Linked DNA regions of Homo sapiens. The protein of the gene in region 7 interacts with the protein of the main gene of each other region in a biochemical or structural test. Each region holds a gene or a part of one and is shown on either strand. Other genes may lie near its edges. The genes, in order: RAB40B, RAB3C, ALDH1L2, ADPRHL1, CDC40, BORA and CRYAA.

What was found.
Region 1: the proteins of CRYAA (region 7) and RAB40B form a complex in vitro, tested with the Homo sapiens proteins (one large-scale study listed by BioGRID).
Region 2: the proteins of CRYAA (region 7) and RAB3C form a complex in vitro, tested with the Homo sapiens proteins (one large-scale study listed by BioGRID).
Region 3: the proteins of CRYAA (region 7) and ALDH1L2 form a complex in vitro, tested with the Homo sapiens proteins (one large-scale study listed by BioGRID).
Region 4: the proteins of CRYAA (region 7) and ADPRHL1 form a complex in vitro, tested with the Homo sapiens proteins (one large-scale study listed by BioGRID).
Region 5: the proteins of CRYAA (region 7) and CDC40 form a complex in vitro, tested with the Homo sapiens proteins (one large-scale study listed by BioGRID).
Region 6: the proteins of CRYAA (region 7) and BORA form a complex in vitro, tested with the Homo sapiens proteins (one large-scale study listed by BioGRID).

The regions. Positions count from the first base shown.
Region 1 is NC_000017.11:82,692,199-82,695,698, reverse strand, and holds part of RAB40B (ras-related protein Rab-40B), read left to right. Parts: intron 1-3,500. UniProt on the Homo sapiens protein: RAB40B small GTPase acts as substrate-recognition components of the ECS(RAB40B) E3 ubiquitin ligase complex which mediates the ubiquitination of target proteins.
Region 2 is NC_000005.10:58,617,575-58,621,074, forward strand, and holds part of RAB3C (ras-related protein Rab-3C), read left to right. Parts: intron 1-68; coding exon 69-296; intron 297-3,500.
Region 3 is NC_000012.12:105,077,959-105,081,458, reverse strand, and holds part of ALDH1L2 (mitochondrial 10-formyltetrahydrofolate dehydrogenase precursor), read left to right. Parts: intron 1-3,500. UniProt on the Homo sapiens protein: Mitochondrial 10-formyltetrahydrofolate dehydrogenase that catalyzes the NADP(+)-dependent conversion of 10-formyltetrahydrofolate to tetrahydrofolate and carbon dioxide.
Region 4 is NC_000013.11:113,450,689-113,454,650, reverse strand, and holds the start of ADPRHL1 (inactive ADP-ribosyltransferase ARH2), read left to right. Parts: upstream 1-1,162; 5' UTR 1,163-1,213; coding exon 1,214-1,427; intron 1,428-1,444; exon of another isoform or gene 1,445-3,962. UniProt on the Homo sapiens protein: Required for myofibril assembly and outgrowth of the cardiac chambers in the developing heart. Appears to be catalytically inactive, showing no activity against O-acetyl-ADP-ribose.
Region 5 is NC_000006.12:110,186,927-110,190,426, reverse strand, and holds part of CDC40 (pre-mRNA-processing factor 17), read right to left. Parts: intron 1-3,500. UniProt on the Homo sapiens protein: Required for pre-mRNA splicing as component of the activated spliceosome. Plays an important role in embryonic brain development; this function does not require proline isomerization.
Region 6 is NC_000013.11:72,734,423-72,737,922, forward strand, and holds part of BORA (protein aurora borealis), read left to right. Parts: intron 1-537; coding exon 538-583; intron 584-3,500. UniProt on the Homo sapiens protein: Required for the activation of AURKA at the onset of mitosis.
Region 7 is NC_000021.9:43,167,630-43,171,807, reverse strand, and holds the start of CRYAA (alpha-crystallin A chain), read right to left. Parts: upstream 2,801-4,178; 5' UTR 2,709-2,800; coding exon 2,520-2,708; intron 1,573-2,519; exon of another isoform or gene 1,477-1,572; coding exon of another isoform or gene 1,399-1,476; intron 1,292-1,398; coding exon 1,169-1,291; intron 772-1,168; exon of another isoform or gene 226-771; intron 1-225. UniProt on the Homo sapiens protein: Contributes to the transparency and refractive index of the lens. In its oxidized form (absence of intramolecular disulfide bond), acts as a chaperone, preventing aggregation of various proteins under a wide range of stress conditions.

The DNA.
Region 1 (3,500 bases), on a different chromosome or scaffold from region 7:
TTCTCTGCCGCCCAGGCTGGAGTGCAGTGGTGTGATTGCAGATCACTGCAGCCTTGACCCTCCTGGGTTCAAGCCATCCTCCTTTTTTGGCCTCCTCAAATGCTGAGATTATAGGCCTGAGCCACAGCACCTGGCCATGTTTTTTTTTTTTTTTAATGACATGTTTCGCTGAGAAACACTATAGGTGCTTGTTATTGAAAGGTGAGGGCAGCCGGGCGCAGTGGCTCACAGCTGTAATCCCAGCACTTGGGGAGGCCAAGGTGGGCGGGTCATGAGGTCAGGAGTTTGAGACCAGCCTGGTCAACATGGTGAAACCCTATCTCTACTAAAAATACAAAAATTAGCTGGGCGTGGTGCCGCGTGCCTGTAATCCCAGCTACTTGGGAGGCTGAGGCAGGAGAATCGCTGGAACCCAGGAGGTGGAGGGTGAAGTGAGCTGAGATCACACCATTGCACTCCAGCCCAGCGACAGAGTGAGATTTTGTCTCGAAAAAAAAAAAAGAAAGAAAGAAAGAAAGAAAGATGAGGGCGTTCGTAACTCCACACTCCATTTCCCTCCACCCAATTCCTCCTGAGTTTTGTAGCCCAGGCTGTTATTTTTATATTGTCCAGGTTTATAGCCCTTGCTTCTGTATTGTGGCTGTAGTGCCCGCAATGATTTAGTATCAATTCAACATTTAAATACAGTCAGTGCTCACCAAAGTCCTTTTACCATTTATGTCTCTGTTCATTGTGCTGTCCCTCTTAATCACCTAGATTTCATTATCAGTCGTTTTTTCAGAAGGACTCGAGTATTTCCTGAGTGTTTTTTTGTGTCTGAGAATGTCTGCCCATGGTCTTTATCTTTGAACAATGTAGAGATATCTTGGCTGGGTATAATACTCTTAGATTTATTTTCTTCCCCAACACTTTGCAGCTGTCATTCCACCATCCCCTGGCTCACATGTGCTGTGGGGAAGCCTGAGGTCAGCTGATTTTTCCCCATGTGGAGGCTTGTCCTTCCCTTCATGAATTTCTGAGGAATTCTTTCTTTTTGTCTCATAGTTCTTCTGCTTAACCAGACCATGTCTCAGAGTTGAATGTTTGTGTTAAACTTTTAGTATGAACGTACTCTTTGAGTTTCCAGGTGTGTGTGTGTATGTGTGTGTGTATGTATTTTTTTTTTCTTAGATGTAGTCTCAATCTGTTGCCCAGGTTGGAGTGCAGTGGTGTGATCTCACCTCACTGCAACCTCCACCTCCCAGGTTCAAGTGATTCGCCTGCTTCAACCTCCCAGGTAGCTGGGATTACAGGTGCCTGCCACCACACTGGGCCAATTTGTTTTTGTATTTTTAGTAGAGACGGGGTTTCCATGTTGGCCAGGGTGGTCTCGAACCCCTAACCTCAGGTGATCTGCTTAGCTCAGCCTCCCAAAGTGCTGGGATTACAGGTGTGAGCCACAGTGCGCGGCCTGAATTTTTCTGATTATCTTATGCCTTTCCTATTTGTTGGTAATTTTGATTTCAGTAAACTGTTCTAGCTGTTTCTAACTTATTGATTAGTTCAGTAAAGATGTTATTTTTGTCTCCTAATTTTCTCTTAGTTTTGGAGTTTTCCTTTTTTTTTTTTTTTTTTTTGAGATGGAGTCTCGCTCTGTTGCCCAGGCTGGAGTGCAGTGGCACGATCTCAGCTCACTGCAACCTCTGCCTCCCAGGTTCAAGCGATTTTCCTGTCTCAGCCTCCTGAGTAGCTGGGACTACAGGTGTGCGCCACCACGCCTGGCTAATTTTTGTATTTTTAGTAGAGACGGGGTTTCACTTTGTTAGCCAGGATGGTCTGGAACTCCGGGCCTAAGGTGATCTGCCCGCCTCGGCCTCCCAAAGTGCTGGAATTACAGGCGTGAGCCACTGCGCCTGGCCAATGTGCACTTCTGTGACTGTGTCTCTGGCCCCCGTTATGTGAAAGAGACTCTCCCATGTTGTGTGAGGCTGTGGGGTGTTAATTCTCATGGTGGTGACATCCCTTTTGTGACTCTACCGTGATTTATTCTCCATCCTGCGGGTGACGGGCATTTGGGTGGTTTCAGGTTTCTGACTATTATGGTTTGTTCTGCCATGAACATTCCTAGTACACATCCTTTGCATTTCTGTTGAAAGGTCCCTATGCGTGTGAATCGCTGGGTATCAGGCACGCAAATGTCTGCACAGGTTTCCCTGTAGTAGATTCTCGCAAAGCATTTTTCACTTGGTGCTCCCACCAGCAAAGCTGGAGGCCCCGGCTGCATCATCTTCCCTCTCAGCACGGGGCTGTCTCTGTCCTTCTGTGGTGTGTAGTTTGCCTTTGCATTTCTCTGATGACTGAGCACCTTTTCATACGTCTATGCGAAATTCCTCTTTGGAAAAATGCCCAAGTCGGCCGGGCCTGGTGGCTCACGTCTGCAATCCCAGCACTTTCAGAGGCCGAGGCGGATGGATCACCAGAGGTCAAGAGTTCGAGACCAGCCTGGCTAACTTGGTGAAACCCCATCTCTACTAAAAATACAAAAAAAAATTAGCCAGGTGTGGTGGCGGGCACCTGTATTCCCAGCTACTCGGGAGACTGAGGCAGGAGAAGCACTTGAACCCGGGAGGCGGAGGTTGCAGTGAGCTGAGATCGCACCACTGCACACCAGCCTGGGCAACAGAGTGGGACTCTGTCTCCAAAAAAAAAGAAAAAAAATAGAAACAGAAAGAAGAAAAATGCCCAAGTCTTATGTCTGTTTTTTCATTTAGGTTGAATTTCTTTCAATGCTTGCTAGGAGTGTTTAAAATATAGATTCTGGCTGTGAGTCCTTTGTCGGCTGTGTGATCCTGGATAGCCACTCTCATCTGCACGTCACCTTTCCACTCCTTCAGTGGTATTTTTGGATGAACAGAAGCTCTTAATTTTAACATAATCCAAATTATCAGTGTTTTGTGGTTAGGACTTTGGGTCCTGTTGAACAAACCTTTGCTGCTCCCAGATTTAAAAAAAAAATGTTCTCTACAAGCATCGTTTTACCTTTGACATGAATGGCTGCCTCCAGCTGGGGTGAGGCCTGAGGCAGGGATCGAGACACACTTTTTTCAGTCGGATGCCCCCCACCCCCACCCCGCATCGCACGGCCACCGTTGTCCCAGCTGAGAGCCCGCCTGTGGGTCTGGGTCTGCACCGTTGGCCCGCCTGTCTCTTGTGTGTGTGCCCCGGGTCAGACTCTGTCTTCTGTGGATGGGCATGCCCTGTGCTGGCCAGGGCAGTCAGATGCATCTTGTCCTTGCTCAGGCAGCTGTGCCCAGGTGTTCCCTTTGCTCCGATACGGTCAGCGAGGCCTGGATTCTCCCTCCTGGGCGTTTGTCTTCCTCTCGGTCTGTAGTTGCAGGGCAGAGTTCTTGGATCTTGGACCCTGTCGGCAACTTGACTCCACAGACTATGTGGACCCCACTGCTCTGCCTGTCACCTCAGCCCACGGACCGTGCGGGCCCCACTGCTCTGCCTGTCACCTC
Region 2 (3,500 bases), on a different chromosome or scaffold from region 7:
AGCTTCATATCAAATGAGAGTCTGATCTACACCTATTTTGTTTTTGTTTTGTTTTGTTTTTATCACAGATGGCCTCTGCCCAAGATGCCAGGTACGGCCAGAAAGACTCCTCTGATCAGAACTTTGACTACATGTTCAAATTACTCATCATCGGCAATAGCAGTGTGGGGAAAACATCTTTTCTATTCCGTTATGCAGATGACTCCTTTACATCTGCATTCGTCAGCACAGTTGGGATCGATTTCAAAGTAAAAACTGTATTCAAAAATGAAAAGAGAATCAAGCTTCAGATTTGGGTAAGTGGCTTTGAACTGGCAGTGTTCTTCAGGCTGGGGTGTTGAACATATCCATTTGTAAGGGAGAAACTTTCTGCCTTGTTCTATCCCCAGGGCATCCACAAGCCTCAATTTCCAGCTTCTTTGCTGCAGAACATTCTGTTTCAAAGAAAGTAGTGGTGATGCCTCTTTAAGACATGAGGGGTGAATTATTATTATGCCTTGTTGTCATGTGGTGCTCCTTAAGAGTCTTCAGAATAAAAAAAAAATCCAAACCTCTATCTTGTTGGTGGTGGAAGGAACACTTTAAGTCTGGCTTTGCCTTTTATGATCTCTGTAACCTTGAGAAAGTCTGTGACTCCTTCTCTGACATTTTTGTAATCTATAAAATAAGCTAAGTGGTTCTGGGTTTTTAGGTCACAGAAAGCAGCCTCTCCTGGGCATTTCAAAGAAGAAGATAAACAACCAAATATAGGAAAAGTGTAGGTTTAGACCCTTCATAAAGCTCCAGATAGAACTTCAGAGATGGTCTATTTATACTGTGCAAACTGTTTTCAACTCTAAGAGCTATGTTTATATATGCAAATAAAACAAATGAAATGAAATATTTATTTGAAACAGGGTCTTTCCAAAGTAGAAGGTTCTCCCAAAGTTTTGAGACCATTTGGTTAGCTTTTTGCCTCTCCTTACCTCCAGAAGAAGATCAGAGGTAGCTTAGCCAAACTGGTGGGATAAATTTAGGAGACCAGTGAGCAAAAAACAGAGGAAAATCTATGTGGATAGCAGGTCCAAGGCAATATAAAAGATGGAGCAGCCAATTTAAAAAAATTGTTACACCAAAAAAGACTGATGTAGTAAATATTTTATGGACATCGTAATATGTACATAGGAAGAATGTTTCTACAGTAAGTTTTGGCACCTTTTTCCTATTCCTTTGTACCTCTGCCACTCAAATTGATTTGATCTGTAATCAGGCATTTCCCAAGAGGTGTTTTCTAGCTCCTTCTGAGACATTTACAACAGCTACTACCATTTGGTGCTGGTGCCAGGATTGATCAATAGGACTGACAATAACCCTCCCTTCATAAATATGGAAAGCTAAAAACAAAAAACAAACAAATCGCAGAGTAGAGGATTTTAACTTTTTTAAAAAAGAAAACAGCCCTTTATTTAAAAATCTGTATAAACTGAATGACCTTTACACATCCTAAAGGTCTTATTAAAGTAGAAATTTAAAGTAATATTTAAAGAGGCAGGTATATACACAGACAGGTACCTTCTTATGTAGCTTACAATAGGCTGTTACTATTTTACTTGTTCTAACTCTAGAGTCTTTCAAATCTAATTATAAATCACGTAAGAATTTGTACAAGTAGACCTTAGGCTGGGCATATTCCCTGCTCCATCATTCCCCAAAGCCATTTTTATTGGGAGTGTTCCTTTTCAGAAACTTGACCTCAATTAATGGAGATACCTATCACACACTCCTCTGTATGGAGACAGAAAAAGCTTTGTCCATTGCTTCAAGTATGGGTCCTGATTCATTCTCTTCCTTTTGAATTGCAGGCAATCCAATTGTTATATGATACATTTCGTATTAAGTTTTAAGGAAGGTTCCTTAATTCTCAGGGGCTTTGGTGAATGGAAAATTAAATTAATTTGGAAACGATACATCCCTTAACTCCATGACAATGTTCTTTTTACTAATATGAAAGAACAATCATTCCTCTGGTTGATAGCTCCACTTTTTCCTCTCTTCTTTCTGTCATAGAGATAATTAAAAATAGTGGTTAGAATCATTTAGATAAAGCATCAGCATGGTGTGTTAAGCCAGTCTTATAATTTCTGGCAAATTTTCAGTGTAGGTTTTTGACAGAAATTCTTTGTTGAGGTGCAAAATTATCTATCTTCAATGTAAATCAGATATATTTCAAATAATATAAATTATTTTTCACACTTAAAAATTATTTTCTTTAAAACAATGCTGGTACCAGGCCAGTGCTAATTCACTCACCTTTTTTTTTTGGCATTGAAATAAGTTATTTATGTCTACATCTCACTTCTGGATGAATATAGCTCTTCTCTGAGCCAACCAAAGCTCAGATCCCTGAGCTGCTTCTACTCTAATACCTCCTCATGCTGCTCAGTTTCCATAAGTTCATGAAAAAGTCTCTGAAATATTATTATCTTCAGATTTGCCTCTAATCTTCTACAATCTACTAGTTTCTTATTAAAAAAAAAACCCTTTAAGTCTATAGACAGTCAGGCCTGGGACCTCATTCTAGGGCCTCCATTCTCCTGCTCTGTGGATGCCCACACTCCCATCAGGGTTCAGCCACTTGGGAATCCTTCACTTTCCCCCATCGTCAGTCACAATAGTAGATTAATAGCCATTACTATCATTGCAATTAAAACATAATCCAATTTCTTCCTCTTTAGGTACATTAGGAGCTCTTAAGGCACATCTGATTTTAGGAGTGTGAAAATCAGTTTTATAATAGTGTATACAATACTGTATACTATTATATGTACTATTGTGGTCTGTTAGATTGTGAAACATTTAAAAGAAGTACAATACAAAGATTTTGTGCTTATGGAACTTGTAGTATAGTTAGAAAAGGAAATTAACACTCGTTGGATAATTATGTACTTCTATAAGCAAATATCAAATTGTATAAATATTATGCATAGCTAGCATTTATTGAATACATACCATATGTTAGGCATTATCTTTGCCTTATTTCTAATTCTCACAACCCAACTTTTAATTTATTACTATCCTATTTTACCTGAGAAATCTGCATGTAGGACAGTTAAATAAGTGAAATAACTTGTTCAGGGTTGCACATGCTGAATGGCTAAGAGGGGATTCCAAGCTAGGTCTATCACATTCTAACACTGCGCTAATTAAGAGTCTTCTTGACTAATGTGGTGGTTATTTTTTTTGAAAATGGCAATCTTGAGTGATGCATCTGGGATGGTGAAATGTTTTTGAAAGAGTTCACATTGAAGGCATGCAGGAGAAGAAATAATGAGGAGCAACAGTGGTATGCTTAAGTATAGGCATTCCTATGATAATTCCAGGAATCCTTGCATTATGCTATAATATAAGTGTGCTGGAAATTATTTAGTTGTAGGTAGTTATGATTGTTTAACAACTCTCACAAATCACTTATTTGGAAATATATTTAGCACAGATGGCTTGTCATCTCATTGTGCTTTAAT
Region 3 (3,500 bases), on a different chromosome or scaffold from region 7:
TCCAGTCCAAAGAGGTGGGACCCTTCCTTGCTCTTTGGAACCAAGTACCTGCTTTATTTCTCAGTTCTAGGAACCAGGTTCTTGTTTCATCATTGCCCGACCTCTGCTCTGGTGTCTTATCTGTTCATAGGATCTCCAAATTCAGCTTTAAACTGTATTTAATTGTCTGTTATACACTGAGGACTCTAAATCCTGAGGATATAATATTAATAGATGCATTAATAAATGCTTTACATATACAATTGTCCCTTGTTGTCCCTTGTATTCATAGGGGATTGGTTTCAGGACCTCCCGTGGATATCAAAATCTGAAGATGTTCAAGTCCCTTATATAAAACGGGTAATATTTGTATATAACCTGTGCATATTCTCCTGTATACTTTAAATCATCCGTAGATAACTTATAATAATGAATACAAAGTAGATGCTATGTAAATAATTGTCCCACTGTATTGTTTATGGAATAATGACAAGAAAAATTATACATGTCTAGTACAGATGCAATTTTTTCCAAATGTTTTCGATTCATGGTTGGTTGAATCCACGGATACAGAACCCACAAATACAGAGGGCGACTGTGTACTCCTTTAATCCTCATGATATCTCAATGAAGTAGGTACTAGGTTAAGCATCCCAAATCTGAACATTTGAAATCTGAAATGCTTTAAAATCTGAACATTTTTGAGCACTGACATGACACTCAAAGGTAATGATCATTACAGCATTTTGGATTTCAGATTTTCAGATTTGGGATGCTCCAATGGTAAGTATAATGCAAACATTCCAAAGTCTGAAAATATCCGAAATCTGAAACACTTCTGGTTCCAAGCATTTTGGATAAGGGATTCTCAACCTAGATTATTATGACCATTTTGCTGATAAGAAAACTGAGACCCAGAAGTGAACTAACTTTTTCAGACTCTCATAACCCAAAAGATAAAACAATAAACAAGAAAGAAATAGTCCCATTTTCAAGGAGTTCATAGATTAGTGGGACAGACTATTAAATCTATGTTTTTAGGAAAAGAATAATAATACATAATACACTAACTAAAATGATATACCAAAAATGAAATATAAATGAGCAATAAAATATGAAAATACACTCAACCAAACTAGTAATCAGGCAAATGCAACTTAGAACAAGATACCATTTTTCACTCATCAGGGTGGCAAAAATCATAAATTTGACGATATTGTGTGTTTAGCAGGGGTGAGAAAACAGTTCATCCACTACTCTAGAGGTCAATTTGATGCTACATATTTAAATTAAATTTATGTTTAAAAATGATCCTGCAGTTTCACTTGTAGGTATCTGAGAAAAATACTTCTACATGGGCACAGGAAGCATGTACCATGATATTCATTGCCATGGTATTTGTAATAATGACATATTGAAAGCCAAAATGTTTCTCAATAGGGACATGAACAAATAAACTGAGATATAGCTACACTAAGGAATACTGTGCAAGAATTTCAAAGAATGAATTATATGTACGAACAAGGAAAGTTGTGGAACATTACGCATAATATTATTTCATTTGAATTATTTTTGGAAATACAAAACAATACTTTTTGTATATATTTCCATGTTTTTAAATGCCTAGGAAAGGTCTGTAGAATTCACACCAAACAATAGTAGTTTCCTCTGGGGAGTGAGAAGGGGATGCAGATTGGGAGTGATGGTCAAAAGGGACTGTAGTCTTATCTGTGATCTTTTCTTTTCGTAAGGAGCTTGTGTGTATATGTAATATGTATAATTAAAAATTAATTTTAAAAATTTTATACAATTAAAATATTATAGTAAATTCTGTGCATGGAAATCCTGCCTCTCTAGTACTGGAGTCCGTTTCTGGACTCGAGCCCTTTGGACTGTCTCTCCCTTTACTCAAAGTCTTTGAAGTGTTCTGTGGTCACCAGCCTCGGCCCAGGAGCTCTCTCCAGCCTCTGAGTCCTGGGCATCCCCCTCTGGCATCACCTGCTCATAGGCCCCTGTACTGACATCCCTCCTTTTAAAATATTTTATCCTTTTTATGATGAAAAAACAAAAGTTGGCCAGACATCCAAGAAAGCCCTCACTGATATCTTCTTTATATAATGAGGCAATAGGAACATCAAGTTGCGCAAGCTTGCCATTTAGGATGGTATCCTGAATCTTGCAGATCTACCTCTATGTAAAGTGTACTTGTTGCTTCTGTTAGTATGAGAGTTTGTTACAATTGGTTGCAAGAGCTTTCACACTATTCCAGACTATATCCTGTGACTATGCTACAGGTGGATTGCTAGGTCAGCTTTGATTTTCACGCTCTGCTCCATTCTCAACACAAGAGGTGTGTCTACCCGGAGCTAGTTCATGCCTCCAGAGTTACCTAAGCAGTCTATTAGCATAGAAACTAGACTCTCCTGGTTTCAATTAACTCTCCTGCTTAAAGCGGCTCAGTGAATCTCATTGTCTTCACAATAAGGTCCCAATTATTTGACACAAAGCGCTCCATAATGTCTCTTGCTACGGTGTCGCTTGTCACCACTCCTTAACTCCCAGTATTGGACACGCTGTGCACATGCATTTGTTTCTTTGTAAATACCGCACCCTCTGCCTGGAACTTCCCAAGCCTCTCCCTTTTCTCTGCCAACTCCCAAGATGGATTCTCTAAGATTCAGCTAAGTAACTCCCTTCTGGAGAAGGCTTCTCGTCTCTTAACCAAACTGTGCTCTCTTATTCTAGCACTGTTACTATGTCTTAGCTTGTGTGCCCTCCCTACTAGTTGGTGGATTCCCGAGTACAGGGACTGCTTCTTTTTATCTTTAGTGTAAGGGTCGCAAAGAGAAATTCCCACAGAGGCCAAACAGGTAAAGCAAATGAGAGATTTGAGCTGCATAGAGGGCAAGACCATGTCTAGGGTAAAGGGGCCACCACTGCTCAGCGCTAGCTGACTGTTGCTATACGGCGCCACAGACCAGGGTTGACAAACCTCCTGAGTTTTTTTGATTTTTGTTTTTTGAGACAGAGTCTTGCTCTGTCGCCCAGGCTGGAGTGCAATGGCGCGATCTCAGCTCACAGCAACTTCTGCCTCCCGGGTTCAAGCGATCCTCCTGCCTCAGCCTCCTGAGTAGCTGGGAATACAGGCACGCGCCACCATGCCCAGCTAATTTTTTTGTACTTTTCATAAAGATGGGATTTCACCATGTTGGCCAGGCTGGTCTTGAACTCCTGACCTCAGGTGATCGGCACCCAGCCAAACCTCCTGAGTTTTAAAGACAAGTTAGAAGTTGTGCCTTCTGAGGTGCAACCTCCTAAAAATCTTAACAGAGTCCTCTTAAAAATGCTTTGTGGGCCAAATAAAACACCCCTGCCAGGCCAGTAATGTGCCACCTCTACCATGCACTACGCCCAGAGTGTGGCAAAGCCTGAAAACATGCTTGTTGGATGAGTCTTGCACAGAGTCAGGCACAGTTTGGGGCACTCTGTGCCGGATGCTCCATGAAGTGTTAGGCACCTCA
Region 4 (3,962 bases), on a different chromosome or scaffold from region 7:
GAATCTCAGGATCATGCTAGCTGGCATGACTGTGCTGATGGCTGCCTCCACCAGCAGACAGTGGAGGGTGAGGTGAACTCACTGCTTGAGATCCTCCGTTTTAACAAGTGCTGATATAACGCCAGGCGGTTAAATGCTTCCTACTGTCTCGCTGTACACTACGAGAGTTTTTATCAGACGCATTTCTTCAGTCCAGGTGTAACTCTTTGCTTCCCCTGGGTCTGATGGAAACCAGGCCCCGAGGAAGGAGACGGGAGAGACACAGCCCTGCTGGGCTCCCGGCCTCTGCGGAGAACTGTCCTGGGGTGGGGTCGGGAGATGGACTGTTTTCCTAATTTATTTCAAACCAGGAACCCTGGCTGTGTGCATTCTGCCTCACCCCCCGTCTCCATATTTTTTAATATTCTTTTCATGAGCTAGCAGGGATGATGTAAATACACTGAGCTGACCGAGGGCCGGATGGGAGGTTCTAGTGAAGCCTGCGGTTTGCTGACGACTTTCCCCCTCAGTGCAGTCCAATTATTTGGGAGCCGTTAAACACCGCATGCTGAGAAGACACCGTCATTGTTCACACAGGAGCTAGATAGACTTTGTTCCCTCTACACTGCATTTTTTAAAAGTTTTCTATCAAAAACACATTTCATAATCGAAAAGTTTTCTAAATGATAAAACCGCATGTCACAGATTAATCTCAACATTATGTTGAGTGAAGGAAGCCAGACACCGAAGGCCACACATTGTATTTGAAATGTCCAGGAAAGGCAGAACTGTAGAGACAGCAGATGGGTTGTTGCCCGAGGGGTGAGGGCACGCCCCGCAGCGGGCGGCAGTGACAGGCACGCCTGCACACATCTGCTCCCGCATCACCCCACGCCACACACGGGGAAGTGTGCGCACTCCTTCCAGGGACAGCGAGAGGAGCCCCTGCTCTGTCAACGCTCTGAATGTGCTGCGGCTGCCGGCAGAAGCTAGCAGGCTCCTCTGCTGAGGAGCTGGTGCCTGTCCAGACGCAGAAGAAAACTGACACCTCCCACGTGGGGGACAGAAAGGTCCTCTCATTGGTGCCACCTGCAGAGATAGACAAGGAGCGCCTGGCCATCAGAGGACGCTCCTGACAGTGACACAGTGACCACTATAAAAGTCAGGCGGGCTGAGGAGGAGACAAAGGCCAGGACGCTCCGCAGCTGTTGGGGAAGAGGAGCTGCCTCCTGGGATGGAGAAATTTAAGGCTGCGATGTTGCTGGGGAGCGTCGGCGATGCTCTTGGCTACAGAAATGTCTGCAAGGAGAACAGCACTGTAGGCATGAAGATCCAGGAGGAGCTGCAACGTTCCGGGGGCCTGGACCACCTCGTACTCTCGCCAGGAGAATGGCCCGTGAGTGACAACACCATCATGCACATCGCAACCGCCGAGGCCCTCACCACAGGTAGGCTGGGCCCACCGCGCTCCGGTGTGCGGGCTGGAGGGAACACTGGCTGCTCGAGTTCTCCCAGTAAGCCTCCGAGAGCTTTGAAGGCAGTGCGGTCCTTCAGCGGATGGTGTTACCTGATACCGCTGCTAAAAGTGGCAATTTAATCTGAGTGTCCCTCAAATTTGATATGCGGCAGATCACGTTTCTCCTGTGGTTTCTCTGAGGGTGACAGTATTACTTTACTTTGCAGTTATTAAGATTCAGTTTTTAAACGTGACTTTTCACTTGTATTTGTAAAGCGTTAACTAGGCCTAGCACCTTCTGTTTCTAATAGAGTTAAAGCCAGTGAAGCCTCTCTCGGCCGTGCTGGTGGGAGTAGGGTGAGGGCTCACTTCTCGCTGCAGAGATTAAGCCTTCTTGTTCTGAATTCATTACAAAGGGATGTAAAATAAGCCAGTTTGAAATGTGAACCCATTAATACTGTTTGGGGATTAGTTCTAAATTCCAATGAATTAAAGTTAGAATATCATCTCCCAAAATGGTTCAGCTTGGAGAGTTGCCCATACACAAATGTGTTCTAAGAAAATGACATAAACTTGATTGGACGAGATTGGAGACAAAGCTTCTTAAAATACCTTTAAGTAGCAAATTGATTTTAGGATCAAGCTTTTGCATGAATTTCAGGGAAATGGCAGGTGCACAGACATGCAGTCCAGCTTTCCTACGAGGCATTTGCTCTTCAAAACCCCGTGGGTGCTGTTTATCATGGCAGAATTAAAATCTGAGGGCTGCAGCTAAGTCAATGAAATCTCACTTATGCGTTCACTCCACCATTCTGTTCATCTGCCATGGACGTGCCCAGTTTAGTTCTGTGCTCACAGCAGAGGAATGCCATCGAGCCTGTGGCCGGTCCCTAAATAACGGGAGAGCTGAAGCGCCGGCGATAAGATAAGGCTCCCGGCTTGCTGGAGACGGGGAGGCGTCCGACTGTTCACAGCCTTGGCGTCCAGGAGCTCCTGCTTCTGGTTTTCCAGGCGGCCACTCGTGTGCCCTTAGGACCAGCAACCCCATGCTTGTGCCCCGCAGCCCAGAACAGGTGCACCCCACACACAGACACCTGTGGGACACAGCTCCGGCTTGTTTTCACCGTAGACGGCTGGAGCTCACTCTTGAGTTTGGCTTCCTCTGGGCGTCTGATGCCGTGTGTGCGCTCATACCAGCTCTGCATGTCCCATTTCTGGTAGCACTTGGTGGGCGTTTTGTAAATGGCAGCGTCCATGGCTGTGGGTCTGGTCCTGCCAGGCCCGCAGGGAGGGCAGCGGCACAGGACACTCCAAAAGTGCACCGACGGAGATCGGCCCAACAGGACACGAAATTCACACAGTTAAAAGGGTTACGGACGTTTAGGGCACTGTTTTTTGTTTGTTTTTTGAGACGGAGTCTTTCTCCATCGCCCAGGCTGGAGTGCAGTGGCGTGATCTCAGCTCACTGCAACCTCCACCTCCCAGGTTCAAGTGATTCTCCTGCCTCAGCCTCCTGAGTAGCTGGGGCTACAGGTGCCCACCACCACGCCCGGCTGATTTTTGTATTTTTAGTAGAGACGGGGTTTCACCACGTTGTCCAGGCTGGTCTCGAACTCCTGACCTCAAGTGATCCACCCACCTCAGCTTCCCAAAGTGCTGGGATGACAGGCGTGAGCCACCATGGGGCGCTATTCTTAAGGAGGAAGTAAGTTTGCTCTAAGCTCTCAGGGTCCTCAGCTGTGGACTGGAAGGGAGGGTTCACTGTGCTGCTGCAGCGTCTAGTTTGTGGGTCATGAGAAAATACGCATCCAAGATCACCCCTGGAATTGCTTACTGTGGGCGGCAAGCCACCCAGGCACTGAGGCAAGAGACAGAGGACACGAGCTGTTCCAGTATAATAAAACAAGAATAGTTATACCAGATATAGATCTTAGATATGATTATATATGAATATCATTAATCATTAGTTTGTAGCAATTACTTTTTATTCCAATATTATGATAATCCTCGCTCTATAATCATAGCCTAGGAAAAACCAGGCCATACAGAGATAGGAGCTGAGGGGACATAGTGAGGTGTGACCAGAAGACAAGAGTGCGAGCCTTCTGTTATGCCCGGACAGGGCCACCAGATGGCTCCTTGGTCTAGCTGTGACGCCAGCGTCTGGGAAGACGCCCGTTACCAGGCGGATCGTGGTCCAGCAGTAGCAAAAGGTGGCAAGGAACAACACCTGCTACTTAGCAGACCAGGAAGGGGGGGGGGGTCTCCCTTTCCCCAGGGGAGTTTAGAGAAGACTGCTCTTCCACCTCTTGTGGAGGGCCTGACATGAGTCAGGCTCGCCCGCAGTTATCCGGAGGCCTAACCGTCTCCCTGTGATGCTGTGCTTCAGTGGTCACACTCCTAGTCTGCCTTCATGTTCCATCCTGTACACCTGGCTCTGCCTTCTAGATAGCAGTAGTAAATTAGTGAAAAATTAGTACTATCAGTACTAATAGTCCCTGATATGCAGAAATAATGGCATAAGCTG
Region 5 (3,500 bases), on a different chromosome or scaffold from region 7:
TGGCCTAGTTAGGGCTTCATTATATCTTGCCTGGCCTATTGTAATACTTCCTTATCTGCTTTAATACACCCTCACTTTTGTCATATTAGACTAATTGCTGATTTTTAAAAATAGCAAGCACTTTGATGCTTTCTGTGCTGTAGGCAATGTTACCGCCTTGTACCTTAGGCAATGCCTTTATTATTTTATGCCGCCTTCTTATTTTTCCTGATACCTTCCCTCCTCCTGCCTCAGGAAAACTGTTGGGTTTTTGTTTGTGGTCCTAAAAAAATGCTGTACTCTATTTGATAGTACTTGTGATATATTATTTGTTGCACATGGCTTTTATGTACATCATATATCCTCACTGCCCAGTAGAACGCAGGGCATTCAGCACATATTCAATAAATATTTGTTAAATTAAATTGAAGACAGAAAAGCCAAATCTGTAGAGAAATTAAGTAGGATAAGGCTGACCAACAATCATTGGATTTGGCAATTATGTCACAAAAAACCTTTGTGAGAGTGACTGTTAGTAAGGACTATGGAAAGCCAGCTGCAAGAGGCAGAGGTGTAAATGAGGATCTAGAAAAACACCACCATATAAATCTGTACTGAAAATATTTGGTGGTAAAAAACAGAACAGATGGGGTGTCAGGTTGAAGGATTTTCAGGGTCAAGTTTTTCTTCTTCCTTAAGAAGAGACTAAGTCAAAGATGTGGTCAATCGTAGGCTAGAAGGCAGGTGATGGCAGGGAGAGACACATGACAAAAAGGACCAGATAAAGGTACAGTTGCCCTAGAAGAGGTAGGAGGGAATAAAATTCAGGACACAGTTGGAAGATTAGCCTCTGAAAAGAGGAGTGCTCTCTTTGGGATGAAATAGAGATGACAAAGGTAAGAATGGGTGATAGATGACAGATGTTTGGAGGTGTTGGGAATCATAATTGATCCTTTTATTTTCTTGGTGTAGTCAGGGTACAGGCAAATTTATAAAGCAAGCATGGAGCTCCAGATTCATATATTCATTCAACAGATTTTGATTGTGTGCCTACTATGTGCCAGGCACTGTCCTGGGCCCACAGAAATAGACAAAGATACCTGCCCTTGTGGAGTTTATATTCTAGTGGAGGAGACAGACAATAGACTATATAATATATAAATAAGTTTACAGCTCTCTAGAAGAGGCTAAATAATATGAAAAAAAAGAATTTAACAACACTAACATGCTAGCACCAGAGCAGACACACTATTTCATATAATCTGTGAGGTTAAGTGTTAGCAGGATTAAGTCACTTAACCCAAGCTACTAATAGAATAAATGGGAAGGGGAAGAGCTCAAAGTAACCACAATGAACAATGTTAAAGAGATCTAACTAGTGACAAATTAAAAAATCACTGGCAGAGTAACTAGGTGTATCAGTCAGGGTTCTTAGTTGCAAGCAGCAGGCTGATTCAGCATTATAAAATCCTTATGAGTTTCTCTTAGAATTACCAGGAAGTGTGGAGAATCAGCTTTGACAAGTAGGCAGAAATAAAGGGTCAGTATACACTTAATAGATGAAATCACAATTCAAAATTAATCATCACAGAACCCATCCAGTGAGGATAATTGTTTACCATGACTGAACACCACTACTAAACTGCTATGGCTACCACTGGATGCTGCTATTGAAACTGCTGGCCTGAGAAACTAGAAAACATTGACCATCATTGCCAGTTTAAGTCCTCTTTCCTGGCTTCTTTGTGGATAAATTTCAGATTAGAAAGCTTAGGTTGGTACATCTGTTTGGCTGAGCCCAACAGATACACCCACCCAACAGTCCTGAGCCTCAGCTGAAAGGGAGCTGAATTAGAATAATCTGGGTTTTCAGCTTCTGAAGATGGGTGATGAACAGGGATGTTCTTCAAATTAAGACCCTTAAGAAAGGGGTTTCAAATGCTAGGCCATTGAAAAGATGACAAATATTATCTATATCACCCTAGAATGAACACTAGAATCTTTACTGATGAAAGATACTATCTTGCACATGGCCCAATAGCAAACTCAGTACTATAAAGTTAACAGGTTACATACAAATTGTTTAAACTGCATAAAAGCTAAATTAAATGCTTTTCCCGCTTAATATTCAACCCCTAGTGACAAACTGCTTAAAATAACATGAGGCTTAGCCACATTCATATCTTCCCAAAGGATTTTATAGTGTATAGTTGCTAGAACCACTTTATAATATGGGATATGAGATCTTTCCAATTAAGGGTATTTAAAATATTCCAAATTGAAATTATTTTGAAGAGTATCATGACACATCAATTTTTAAATGCAAAGTACAATTTAAGAAATTACTGTTTATATAAGCAACACTGGCAGCCAATAAAAAATATAAGTAAGTCCCAGTCTCTGACTCCTGCTAAAATTATAGAACAAATTGAACAACTCTCAAGAAAACGAAGGGCTGTTATTTTACAGAAATTTAATTAGAAAACTTGGACAATACCACAACCTTGTTTTAATACCCATGAGGCATTCAATACCAATTAGGTATGCAATTGGAATTACCACAGAATAACAAATTATTTCTATTCAGTTTCAATTATCCACAAAAATTAAAATGCAGTAAGTGAAGGGCACCCTGTGGGTCAAATAAGTTTAAATAGTTTATCTTTTTGTTGATTCAAAGTAATTTGAGAATAAAACTGGGTAATATTCACTTTTCAGTCTTTTCCACATTTCTTCCTGTGCCCAAATAAGAAAAGAGACATAAAAACACCATGTAAACTGTAAAGCAGATCACAAATATTATTATTATAAGTTACTTATCAATTTATGGCATAGTTTTTTTTCCTCCCAGAAAACAGAAATGACTAAACTTCCTAATAGAAGAATTTAGGTGAATGATATAAAAGAACAGAACTTCAGATAAAGATATCCTCTGAGTTTGGCCCTTAACAGATTGCAGAGGGAAAAGGTCGTCCATTTGAAGCTCACAAATATAGGAAATACCACACATGAAAAAACTGAAAAATATGCCTCAAAATTAGAGGCAGAATTTTTATTTTACTTTAGTTGGCTATGCTAAGGCAAAGAATACATTCGGGGGAAGTAACATAGTCACTGGTTGAAATGAGAGAAAGCCAGATCTGCTTTTGTTTTTGTAACCTTAAAGTCACTTAATAACCAACTCTTGCAATCCAATAGGGTCCACTGCATGATTTCTAAAGTGCAAAACCTTACAATGTTGCATGTAAAAATTTTTATTGGCTAACATGGTGAAACCCCGTCTCTACTAAAAATACAAAAAATTAGCCAGGCGTGGTGGCGGGTGCCTGTAGTCCCAGCTACTAGGGAGGCTGAGGCAGGAAAATGGTGTAAGCCCAGGAGGCAGAGCTTGCAGTGAGCGGAGATTGCGCCACTCAACTCCAGCCTGGGAGACAGCGAGACTCCGTCTCAAAGAAAAAAAAAAATTTTATCCAGAAAATACTCATTGTCATACATATACTGGAGAACACAAATATGTGTAA
Region 6 (3,500 bases), on a different chromosome or scaffold from region 7:
ATCAAAGTGAAAAAAAAATTCATTTGGAAAAAATGTTATATTGTCAGTGTTTTATTTCAGAGTTAATATTTTTGACTGTTTAGAACTGTGAACTATCCTCATCTATTTTACAGTAAAAGTTGATTCTAAAATTATTGCCATGATAAACTTGTTATAATTGAAGAGAAAAACTTTGGACAATTTTTAGATGTATGTTGAATTAAATACTTCTTAATTTGTATTAAGGGACAAAGTTTATCAAATTTATATTGTTAAAAGCAATTTAATATCAATGTAAGTCTTTTGAAATAAAGTATCATTGCATTCAAACTTTGAATGGAAAAGAGGGAGGTAAGCCTAACAGCTAACTGCTGAATTTCAGAATACTGCCTAAATGTTACTAAATGTTACAAGATACCACTAGTATTAATTATAAAGTGAGCTTAACATTTGCCAGTTTTCAATGAAGGGAGATTATTTATTTGAAAGGTTATTTTTTAAAATGTTCAATAAGCTTAAGTAATAGCATGGTTATTTTTCTTCTTTATCTTTGTATAGAATAGATAAAGATGTGGAAGACAAAAGACAAAAAGCCATTGAAGAGGTAACTTAAACTGTTACTGATCATTAAATCAGTTAAGGATCAATTCTGCATGTACATCACTTCTTTTAGGAAGACTTTCTTCAATTCCTTCACTGTCCTATCTCCCCTCCAAGCCCTTCACAGTCCCATCTATATAAAGCACCCTTCTGTACTGTCCTAAGACCAATAATTTCCAGCTATCCCAGTACCTTGCATAGCACTTGCATACTGTTGTAATGATCAGTTTAGTGTTTCTGTCCCCTAGACGCAATCTTTTTTGGCCAATACTGTACTTCATCCTTTCATTCTCAGGACCTAGCACAATTTGTCTTCCTTGTGCCTTCAAAATGTTGATTAGCACAAACTTTGTTTCAAGTTGGAGTTTATGTAGAGGAAGTCGAATATTCTCAGGCCTTCAGAGTCTAGATTGGCATTGGGAATGGCTTTGTCTTTTTTTGTTAATACTTTGGATTTTTAAGATATTCATGAAATAAAATCTCTTACTGTTAAACAGGAAAGGTATATCATAATGTAGGCTTTCTAAAAAATAAAAATAATTAAGTTTTTTGCTTTTTTATGTCTGTTGAATTGCCTTTCTTAGCATCTAAATAAGGTTATTATTATTATTATTTTTTGTTTTTTGAGACGGCGTTTCGTTCTTGTTGCCCAGGCTGGAGTGCAATGGCATGATCTCAGCCCACTGCAGTCTCCGCCTCCCAGGTTCAAGTGATTCTCCTGCCTCAGTCTCCCGAGTAGCTGGGATTACAGGCATGCGCCACCACACGCAGCTAATTTTGTATTTTTAGTAGAGACGGGATTTCTCCATCTTGGTCAAGCTGGTCTCGAACTCCCGACCTCAGATGATCCGCCTACCTTGGCCTCCCAAAGTGCTGGGATTACAGGCGTGAGCCACTGCGCCTGGCCCAGCATCTAAGTAAGGGTTACTTACCTTGTTCTTTCCTCAGAAAGTCTTTATGTGATGGCAGCATTTCTGATTTTTACTTTTCTGCCCCTCTAGCCCCCTCAACCCTCCTCTGTTCCTTAGCCGTACTTGGCTCTTCCGTACCACAAAAGACTATGTTTACTCCTGCTAAACATTACCTACTTCTTCTTCTATCTAGTAACTGCACAGTTTTCATTCTGACTCAGTCACTTGGTTCTTCCCCACCTGAATATTCTCAGACTCTCAAAATTTCCAACATTTTGAAAAAATACTTTCTTTAAGAATCCTTAATTTTAAAGAGAAACCCAGCAGGTAAACTTAAGAAAATTTGTTTCTTTTCAATATATATTTTTGAAAATAGAAGAAACATATACATATAGTAAAAACAAAAAGAAAAAATATAAAATAAAAAGCCTCCTGTTTCCCCATCCCACTTCATGAAGGTAATGACTATAACATTTCTTATGTGTACTTTCAGATTAATTTTACTTATTTAATAGCATATGTCCTTAAAATATTTTCGACAAATAGGATTATCATTCTCATACTATTATCGTTCTCATACTGCATCCTCCTTTTTTTGCTTCATGATTTTTCTTAGAAATTTTTGATAACCAGCATATACAGATTTTTACATTCTCTTAGCAACAGCATAGTTACCTAGCCCCTGTTGACAGATGTTTAAATTGTGTTTATTATTTTTCTGTCACAAATAATGCTGCAGTGATTTGTATATATATCTTTATATTCTTGAAATGGACCTAGTAAGTCAGAGGCTTTGTGAATTTTCAGTTTTGGTAGATTTTACCATATTGCCCTCCTAAAAGGTTATACCAGTTTATACTCCTGATTACAGTGTGACACTGCTTGATTTTCCATATCTCCAATATTGATTATTATCAGAATTCTTAATTTGTTCTACTCCTATTACTTTAAAAATGACTTTTTTTTTTTGTATTTCTTTACTTTTGAGTGAACTTATACATCACTTTGTAAGTTTATAGGTCCTTTAATTTTTTTTCTGGTAATTGTCTATATCTGCCCCAGTCCACCTTTAAAAAAAAAAAAAAAAAGAATCTTTTCCTCTTAGATTCATGGGTAATTTAGTTAAGAAAATTAGCTCTTTGTCATATGTATAGCAAAATATGAAGAAAATATGTTTGGTTACTTGCAAAACCTAGGGAAGGGAAAACACTGTGGTAGAAATGAAAGAGGAAAGAAAAGTATACAAATGCTCTATCTCATTTGAATATACTGGCCAGTAGTGTGCTGGTGAATGTTTAACAACTTGCTCTCTGGTCGTGGAAGGAGTACGATTTATAGCGATTCCTGCTATCCATAGTGTAAGTACTCCAACCATGGCCAGTTTCAAGCTACTGATGTGACATCACTGAATGGGAAAGGAAGAATAGTGGCACACCATTATATGTAGGAATTCCACCATACAGATACAAAATACATTATTAACCTCAAGAGCATAGACATTGATAAATATATAAAATAATTAGCAAGTGGTGAGTTTTGGATATTTGTTACCTTTATTTTTAATATATTTAATTGTAAGTTTACATAATTTTATTTTTAATATTGGTTTTAACAACTGGTGCACAGAATTCTTGAAAATTTAATAATCAGATCTTGAGAGCCAGAACAAACAAGCCAGCTTCAGTGCCGTCATTCATACTGGCCTACTTGCATGTCTCTGTCTTAATATATTCCTTCCCTTTTCATCCTTTTTTTTGTAACCCCATCAAAAAAACCTGGGAAAGAAATTTAAAATACTTTGTCTATGATTAATCCTCTTAGTTTAGTTTGCAAGTTTCAAATTTAACTGGTTGATTTGAAGTATTAAGATTCCTCTTTATATATACTTTAAATTTCTTCCATTTTTCCTTTGGTCATTTGTATTAAAATTTTTGCATACAGTTATAAAGTTAGTATATGACATGTTTAATAATTACTTGGAAAAACACAGGTACCGTCTCACATTTTGGG
Region 7 (4,178 bases):
CATGGCTTCACTCCAAAATCGCAGGATCATTCCAGACCAGGCCCCGCACCTCAGCCAGTCTTCCCCTTCCAGACCCCGCAGGACTGCTCTAGCCCAGGTCTCTGCAGCCCTACCTAATGTGGCCAGACGACCCACATGCTTCCACGTCCCCTGGACGCCCTAAACCGCAGACTCAGCTCCCTGGGCTGACCTCCTCCTCCACTGGGTGCAAAGACCAAGAGCTGGGAGCTCAGGAAGCATGTTCCAGGCTGGCTGGGGCTACGTGGGGGCTTTACCGGGCCCAGGCGAGGGAGGGGCAGCACATGAGGAGGTCAGCGTTCACCCCCCAGCACCACCTTCTCCAGCCATTGAAAGAGGACCCTGGCCAAAAGAAACCAAGACTTTGGCTAAGAGTTCCACCTTCCAGCCCCACTCTGCTCTCCAGCCCCCGCGGGGCACTGTCCATCTGTGACAGTCCATGAGCTCTTCCCGGCTCCGCCAGGAGATGCAGGTCACCAGGGCTCCAGTGCCCCGGCTCCCTCAACACCACGGAGATCCGAGGCCTCCAGCCGAGCAAGAGCGGGGCATCAGGGTGACTGTGGGGAGAAGCTCCCGTCCACCTGCCCGGTACTAGCTGTGGGACCCAGCAGGCTGAGGACCCCCTTGTTCCCCAGCCGTGCCCTGGAATAATGAGGACACTGGTTCCAAAGTGCTGCTGTGAGGCGAAGGTGTCAATGCCTGTAAAGCATTCCAAGCGGATGCAGCTATGCCGTCGGGGACTGGCTTCCTCAGGTAGGGTTCATGTGAAGATGTACACTGGCTAGGAGGCGGCCACCCGGGGCACTCCCACTTCCTGGGGTTCTTTCTAAGACCACCCTGGCATCCAGGTGACAGGGATGGAGCTGGCGACGGCTGGGTGCAGCCCGGGAAGGGACCCTAACCTGGATCCCTGAGCCACATTAGCTCGGGAATGGTGACCTCTGTCACCGGGAGGGGCTGGCTGTGCTCAGGTGGGCACGGCCCCTCCCTTGGGGAAAAGCCAGGCCTGATTCGGGGTCCCCTGGAGAGCGTCCCTCTCCCAGGGTTGAAGGCATGGTGCAGGTGTGCAGGCCCGGTCGTGCCCGCCGTGACCCCCTTGTCCTCGCGCCCAACTCGCCCCCCTCTCCCACCTCTCAGTGCCTGGGCTCACCTGGCGCTCGTTGTGCTTTCCGTGGATCTCCACAAAGTCGTCCTGCACCTTCACGGTGAGGTCCTCCGGGGAGAAGTGCTTCACATCGAGGAAGATGACGAACTTGTCCCGGTCGGATCGAACCTGAAATCCAAACGTGCCATGTGGAGCTGCCCAGAGGGTGCCGTCCCTGCTGGGGTTGGCAGAGACAGGGCGGGTCCCGGTTATCAGAACAGAGATGCTTCGGTCACCTGCCGGCCTCTTCTCCCACACACCAAGTGGGGCAGAGCTTTCGGGGGCCTGTGACTGTCTCCTGGACAGACAGGCATGACCCTCGACCTGTCTCCAAACCCTCAGGGCCAGCTGAGGGGCTGAATGCTACTGGTGGGCCGGCTGGTTGTTTGGCTATGGTCAGGTGGCTGGTTATAGATAAGTTGGCTGGTTATGGGCTGGCTGGCTACTGGTTATGGTAGGAGGGGTCGTTACGGGTTGGTTGGTCCGTTAGGGTCAATCGTCTGGCTGGTGATGCTTGGCTGGCTGGCTGGACTCAGCCTGTGGAATGAGGTCACTGCCCTTGGTGTCATGCTGTCTATAGAAGCGGCCGGAGCCTGCTGACAGCCTGCGCAGCTGCCTCTCCAAAACGCACTTCCACATGCTCCTTCTCACTCCCCTGGCTCAGCCTTGGCTCCCTGAGGCATTTTGCACCCTGGCGTTGATGCCTACTGCAGCAGCCCTGGGGAGGACCCTGTTTATGAGGTGCTGGGTGGGACTCAGGCCCTCCAGAACAGCAGAACCTGCACCGCTCACCCGTGGCTCAGAGAGGAGGCCTGTGGTTGGGTGGGGGGGGGGGCGTCCATTGCCTGTCCTTTTAGCCTTGGCAGGGCACCTAAGTAAACTTGCCAAGAGCTTTGCTAGCCGTGGGCAGGCCGAGCTCATTGGAGGAGGTGCTAGGAACGCCCTGCTCTCTGGCTTTCAGGACTATGACCCCCACCTGCTCCCAGGTCTCCGGGACTCAGGAGACCAGAGGAACCCGGGAGCTGGCATTCGCCACCACGCATGCCTGGATGGGCTGCTCTTGGGGTTTCCAGTATGTGGCTGGTGCCTTACAAAGCACACATGGGTCATGAGCTGATGGAGGAAAGCAAAGGTGGATTCAGGCTGCTCCCTTGTCCACCCTCTCCCCAGTGCCAGGGGAAGCTCTGCCACGTGGCTGCAGTGGGGACACAGGCTCTCGCCCAGCCTCTGCAAGGGGATGAAGTGGGACGAGGCCACCTGCCTGACGGAGCAAGACCAGAGTCCATCGCTCTCCACCCACCGAGGCCACCACCCTCTGAGCAGCGAGGAGAGGCCAGCACCACGGGCCACGTCTTACCTCAGAGATGCCGGAGTCCAGCACGGTGCGGAAGAGGGACTGGCGGTAGTAGGGGCTGATGGTGGACGACAGGAAGGGCAGCAGGTCATACTCAAAAAGGCCCTCGCCGAAAAACTGGTCGAACAGCCGGCTGGGGTAGAAGGGCCCCAGGGTGCGCTTGAACCAGGGGTGCTGGATGGTCACGTCCATGTTCAGCTTTGGTACCACGGGGACCTGGAGGCTGGCAGGAGTCAGCGGGGCCTCTGGGCAGCGCAGTGTGGAGCCAAGGCCGAGCCCTCCCTATATATGCCACCAGCAGAATGGAGGCATTAAGGGATTTCTCTGGAAAGGCGTGAGCTCATGAAGAAGGCTGCTCAGTCAGCAGAAACGTGGCTGGGACAAGTGCCCGCCCCCAGCCCCAGGAGGGGCTGCACGGACTGTCCCCGAGGCCTGGACTCAGCTGAGGCCCGCCTGGGCACCCTGGGGCTCCCGGGAGGGCAGACAACCCAAGGAGGCGCCTGTGCCCCATACTCGCCTGGGGCGACAATGGAGCTTCTCATCTGCCAGTCACTGGGCAGGGGCTACGTGCCAGGGACCATGCTAGTTCTCTGCACACCTTGTCCTGCCGGGGTGGTCCTCATGGTCGCCAGAGGAGGGAGAGCACACACCCCCGTTAGACACAGAGGTTAGACACATCGTCCTCAGAGTCTCACCGGGCCTGGGCAAGAGTGCACTGGTTTCCAAAGCGGAGTGCATCTGTGAACCTCCGTTACACTCACCACTTACAAAAGTACGCATGCTTGTTAAAACTCGTGGAGAAGAAGCTGCAAGGTGCCATAATTCCAGCACCTGGGGGAGCCCTATGGCGTTTCATGCTTGTCCTCCAGGGGTCACATGCCTCCAACAGGAAGACGGGCTGGGCTGTGGGCAGATGAGAGCACCACGTGGTGAGCTTCCCTCTGCGGCCCACCCTGGACGCCCAGCCCCATGGCCATCGTCCCCTCGATGTAACGCCTCGAGCGTTACATCTCGTAATGATGTAATGCCTTGATGTAACATCCCCACGTAACGCCTCGAGCCTCCGTGGCATGACCTGCCGTGGCTGTTGAGTTGGGCTGCTCCTGTCAGGGTGGCGACATGTCCCCACGTCCCTGTCACCCATGCGGACCCACCACCCACATGATCCTGTTATCCACAAGTCCTGGTGATTATTTTGCTCCTCGACCCATGGCCCCTGTCCAGTTCTCACTAAGTGTCCAGGCACTCCCGGTTTTGTTTGTTTGTTTTTGAGATGGAGTCTTGCTGTGTCACCCAGAGTGGCGCCCAGATCATATAGTGGCGCGATCTCAGCTCACTGCAACCTCTGCCTCCCAGGTTCAAACAATTCTCCCACCTCAGCCTCCTGAGTAGCTGAGACTGCAGGTGCCTGCCACCACACCTGGCTAATTATTATTATTATTATTATTATTATTATTTTTGTATTTTTAGTAGAGACAGGGTTTCACCGTGTTGGCCAGGCTGGTCTCAAACTCTTGACCTCAGGTGACCCACCTGCCTTGGCCTCTCAAAGTGTAGGATTACAGGCGTGAGCCACTGCACCTGGCTCACTCCTAGTTTTAAGTCTTTTGATATTTTGGTATTTTGATATTTTGGTAAACTGGCCCTGGGGAGCATGGTCCT